Regions from separate parts of the Homo sapiens genome. Here region 1 is linked to region 2. Evidence: fine-mapped expression QTL. A gene starts in region 2. The other region holds a variant in brackets. All regions are shown on one strand. Distances are from middle to middle.

Evidence for each region. PIP is the estimated chance that this variant, and not a neighbour inherited with it, causes the effect.
Region 1: its variant is the best candidate, but not a certain one, in a credible set for the expression of CLEC4D in thyroid (GTEx, PIP 0.58).

Annotation. Positions count from the first base shown.
Region 1 is chr12:8,534,145-8,537,052 of GRCh38, forward strand. CLEC4E (C-type lectin domain family 4 member E) reads right to left here. Exons shown (of 6, transcript NM_014358.4): 5 at 1,946-2,061; 6 at 1-665. The coding sequence ends at 494. Among named protein-coding and RNA genes, the nearest start is that of CLEC4E, 5.3 kb to the right of the region's middle. The variant C/T (reference allele first, on the strand shown) is at 1,157.
Region 2 is chr12:8,511,807-8,514,732 of GRCh38, forward strand. It overlaps CLEC4D (C-type lectin domain family 4 member D), which reads left to right and starts at 1,697. Exons shown (of 6, transcript NM_080387.5): 1 at 1,697-1,954. The coding sequence starts at 1,927. It also overlaps the pseudogene SUPT4H1P2.

The DNA of each region.
Region 1 (2,908 bases), 22 kb after region 2:
AAGAAGCTTCTTACTCATTATACAGGGGAGTAAAGAGACGATATATGCTTGGGCAGGAGATAAGAACGGTATGAAACCAAGAAGAGAAGACAGACTTGTCAGAAGCTAGAAAGAAGAGGACCTGCTACAGAGCCCGGATTCAGGAGATTTTTGGAAGGCACCTTCCAAAATCCCCTTCTTTGCTAGACTCTGTCTTGGCTCCGTGTCCCTGTACTTTCATACGAACACTAAAAAATGAGGCAAATGTAGCAAAAGGTAGTGAATTGCTTTGTAAATTCTGGGAAGAGGACCTGAGACTAACGTAGAGAGAAAATGCACTTCAGCCAGTAACATGAATTATAACATTTAAAACTACTTATTTTTATTTATATCAGAGTAACAAATACTTATGAAGTCCTTTGAAGTTCAGCGCACAAATTTCTCGTGTGGGGCGGTGGGTGTGGCCATGTTCTTGCTCTTCCTTCTTTACACATTTGAGTTGTGCCTTCTGTTCTTAAAGAGATTTTCCTTTGTTCAAAGGATTTATTCCTACCATTTCACAAATCCGAAAATAATTGAGGAAACAGGTTACATCATTCCAATTTTGCCTTGGGTTTGAAGAGTCTCTCATGGTGGCACAGTCCTCCAGGGTAGCTATGTTGTTGGGCTCCCCTACATCCCAGAAGCTGAAAAAGAATGACATAGGAGACTTAAAATCCCAGCAAAAAGAGGTAAAGTAACCTAATATACTAGGCAAATTACATTTGTGTTATTTAACCTCACAACAATTTTGCGAGGTAGGTATTATAATGTCCATTTTATTGAAGAAGAAAAGGAACCTCAGGAAGCTAAACTAGTTGTCGAAGTCACAGTTTGTGAGTACTGAAGCTGAACCGGATCTTTCTGACTTTCTATTCTGTCCTGTTCCTTTGTTCCTTTTCTATTCTGTCCTGTTCCTTAGCTATAGAATGAGAAGTTATGGGGAAGATTGATATTCTGATAGATTTGTTTTCTTCACACTCATACCTCATATCGGCTTAGCTCTCTTTATTCTGCACAGAGTGTGTATTAACTTAGGTGCATCCTGCAGTGATGTTACAGTGTGGTAGTGAAGCAGCATTTCTAACATGTCAGAGTATCTCTGTTGTACTCTTAGAACTGCTCATTAGCTAAGTCA[C/T]TTAACTCTGCTGAGTTTTAGTTTCCTCAAATGCTAAATAAAGATTAATAATACTGATACATTCCAAGAAAGTGTAATTTAGGTAAAATGAAATAATAAATGAGAAAAAAAATTAAAAATGCTATGCTCTATCAGGAAGAATACCTAATGGATGCTGGACTTAATACCCGGGTCATGTTATGATTTCTGCAGCAAACCAAACCACCACGGCACACGTTTACCTATGTAACCTGCACATCCTGCACATGTACCCTGGAACTTAAAATAAAAGTTGAAGAAAAGAAAAAAGAAAAAACTCACTCCCTAACAAATCATGAGAATCAACATATATAGCAAAATATTTTATATATCAATTAACCAATCTAACAAAAAAAGCATATCCACAATAAAAAATGCTATGTTCTAATGACGTGAGGCTATTATTAAGGAGAAAAGAGACATTATCAAGAGATTCTCATTTTTCACTGCATAAGAACCTGCTGTCTTTCTCAACTTACTATTTTTTTCCTCATTTCCTTCAGTTTTGGGGAATAAGACTCTTAATTCCACCTCTCGTCTCTTTTGCATTCTCAGTGAATGATTCTTCAGTTCATTTTCATTTATTATTTCCCCTTTATTCTTGAGACAATTCCAGGAAAGGAGAGAAGTGGGTGCTTGTACTTCTCCTTCATCTTTTCTACCTTAGCTCTTCTCTTTCCTGCATTTAATACCACCACCAATAATGGACCTGATCTATTGCAGGTAACAGAAGGAGGTTTCAAGAACTCCTCTCAATAGGAGGGTAATTACCTCAGAGACTTTGTCAAAGGTGTGCCGTCCACCCATTGCCACTGACCCTCGACAACCTGGTCTGACAGTCCAATAAAAAACTCTCTCATTTTAGGTTTCTTGTAGGAAAGGAATTCCTATGGAAGATACAAAATAAAAGGAGATCAGTTATTTTAGTTTTGAATAAACGTTGCTAGTAATTATTATTCAAAGAGGTAAGAATCTGGATGAGATCCTAGCACTTTGGGAGGCCGAGGCGGGTGGATCACCTGAGGTCAGGAGTTCAAGACCAGCTTGACCAACATGGCGAAACCCTGTCTCTACTAAAAGTATAAAAAAATTTGCCAGGCATGGTGGCGGGTGCCTGTAGTCCCAGCTACTTGGGAGGCTGAGGCAGGAGAATCGCTTGAACCTGGGAGGCAGAGGTTGCAGTGAGCCGAGATTGCGCCACTGCACTCCAGCCTGGGCAACACAGCAAGACTCCATCTCAAAAAGTAAAAAAGAATCTGGATGAGAAATAACAGATAAGTGAAACTGTAAGATCATGAGGATTATCTACTGATTTTTTTTTGTGGTAAAATATACATAACATAAAATTAAACTGAAAAAATAACCTTCAACAGAAAAGGAGATCCTCAATAATTCTTTCAAAGTTTATCTACTATTATTGGTGGCCAAATTTATTGAATATATCTAGCGCAAAATATTATTAATCACAGCTTAAAGAAAACGGACAATATTTGCTTCTCTTCTTTCATATAATATGTTCATAAACATAACGATTCGTCTAAAATTAACACTTCCAACCCTCTTTTTCCCCTTGCCTAACTAAAGGAACTCCACATGGAAATTCCCTTTTTCTTAGGTTCTTCTAGGAAGGAAAATAAATTAAGGTAGGCAGTGACTTTACCGAAATAGTAAGAACAGCATGCATTTTAGTACATTCATTAACAATAGTCATTGGGGGTCAAGCACTGTGCATAT
Region 2 (2,926 bases):
CAGAAGGATACAAGCACAAGACACCAGGGCCACCAAGCTGATGGGGTTACTGAGCCTCTGGACAGCACCTTCTGATAGGAAGCAAGGAAGCACACTACAAAGGCTGCAATCCTGGAGGCTGAGACAGTCAAGAGGGAGTGGAAGGGCCTCTGCTGCTCTGGGAAGGTATCTTATAGGGCAAATAAGCTCTTACTGTGTGCCTAAGAGAAAGGAAGAGGGAAGCGAGGCAGGTGTCATGGCCTTAAGAACTTTCTAGAGGTTTCTATTTATTGACATTTGACCTAGACCTCTTCATGAGCAAGGCGCAGCCTTGGGCTACAGGTAGGAAAGTCAGCATCCTACTCTCTCCTCAATTCCATCTGTTAATCCACCAACCCAAATCCCTCCCACCCCCACCTGAAGTCCAAATAAGGTAAAATGATAAAATGATGTGCTGTTCTCTCAACAGTTGGCTGAGTCTGAATTGGAGGGTAGGAAGCATTTGAAGCTCTGCCCATTTAGTTCCAGAACAAAAAATAAGCAGAGGCAGGAGGTGGAGAGCAAAGACGCTGGCAGCCCTGCGTCTGGTCTTTATAGCTGTGTCTTTGGATTTGTAGGCCACTCCTCAACTTTTCAGCTCCCGCACGATTCCTTAGGGCAAGCGACCAGTGGTTGACACCGCATATACACCTGGCTTAAAGTTATTGACTCGCTGCCAGTTGGAGACCCAGCTGTCCTCTGGACTCATCATCGCAATGATTCCATCAAAGGAGGAGCTGGTGCAGCCATATAGCATCTCTCAGTTACCCTTCATCTGTAGATATGCATCTCAATAGTCACAACCATCATATTCAAACTGGTCTATAGTACCTTGACCAGTGAACACAGCAAACAGGCCCACAGATGCCACAGGTCCTTCAGCACCGTCTCCAGGGCCATCTTCTCCAATGAGAAGAGCAACAGCAAGGAAGATGGCCACAGCCTGAGCACCCGCAGGAAGTAAACAGCTCGTTAGCCGGGTCTCTTCTTATAATTCCATCATGAGGACCCCATTCTCATGACCTCATATTAAACCTAATTACCTCCCAAACTTTTGACCTCCAAATGCCATTACGTTGGAGGGTAGTGCTTCCACCAATGAATTTTGAGGAGATACAGACATTCACTCCCTAACAGTGCTATAAATGAAGTCAGGGACCCTGATGGTGTCTTTATCACAGAATCTTACATTTTCTTTGTCTTTGCCTTAACACAACTCTTTTTGCTCACCTAGAAAGTTCTTGGGATTTAATTAACTGCTCTATCATCTCTTCCTCAACTCGAAAACAAAGGTTGCTGTGTCTTCACATGCCATGTACACACAAGGTATACTTTAAAAGTTTTTGTTCATTGTTCACATTGTCTTTTGCTCTCTTAGACTCAACTTTTTATTCAGTCCAGAGAACTTTTTAGTATAGAACTCACCCCAAGAATATAACTGCCTTTGAAAATATAATATTCACAAAAAGAATTTAAAAAGAGGGGACATTTACTAAATTTTTATTGGGCATAACAATTATTTCTTTTAGGGCGTTGCTAAATTTTTTGTCTAAATGAAAAAAAAAACAAATTGAGAAATTCCACATTTCACACTGATCTAGTGATCTCAACATACTTGTGGGTTTCTACTAACTGTTGTTTGGTATTGCTTTCTCAATTTCCTTTTTTTTTTTTTTTCGCCTCATCTCCCGGAATGTATCAAAGGAAACCCCTGTCTTTGAAAAAGACTTCTTTTGAGCTAACTTTCTTATACTGGTACCTTTCTAATCTCACTACAATATGTAACATTGGTGTTCGATCTCAAGTATTTCTGAATATATTCCCCTATCCACAGAAATATACTCTGGGGGAAAAAAAATAGAACAAATTCTTGCCGTCCTGACCATTGAACAAGAGACTAATTAGACAATGGGGCTAGAAAAACCTCAAAGTAAACGTGAGTACTTTCTCTCCTTTCCATTTCAAAGAAGCAGATGGAATTATACTAATTTAAAACATATGAATTGATGGTAGTTTTAAAGATTGTTGATGATGACGGGGAGAAGGAGGTGGAAGGAAATAAAAATGACGTTGGTGAAGAGGAAGGACATAGAGTCAAATAAGTTGGATAACAGAAACTTCTTTATAAAATGTATATTGGACCAAGAGGGGAGATAAAATATATAAAAGAGAAATAAGATGAAAAGAAAGAGAGTAATATGAGAAGATTCTTTTAAAGAAAAAAGAGAAAAGGAAGATGTAGAAAAAGCATTTAGGCTTATGCTGTATCAGAGGCTCTAACTGTCCCATTTTATGTTTGACTTAAGTGACACCAGTGGATTTGTATTGTGATAATATTAAATAATATTTTTGATAGATATATAGAACAAGTGTGGAAATGTTTAAATTAAAATTAAAGTTTTACTTTATCTCATCACCCTACCATGGCAAACTGTAATCACAGTGTGATCCTATTGAATTACCTTTTTAGGTAACAATATTTCTTAGAGATTTTTTGCATCAATATATACTGATTACATGCTTATTTAATTACTATACAGAATATCATTGTGTGAAGGGACCATAATTTAGAATTTCCACTATTGATAATATACATGTAAATATTAGATTACAGTATGTGTTTTCTATTTTGAGAAGTACTGCAATGAATATCTTTTAACATAAACAAGCTCAATTATTTCTATAGAATAGACACCTGTAATTGAAATTATTGTGGCAAATGAAATGCATTTAAAAATGGATAAATGCCACTAAATTGATCCTTCTAAAAGGCATTCCTAATTTTCCAGTCCAGGCAGCAGCATTTATTTTCTCACTAAGAGTGCTTATTTCCCCTCAGCCTTGCCAACACTGCATGTACTTAATTTACTTAAAAAATCTGATGTGTGAAAAGTTATACCACAATCTT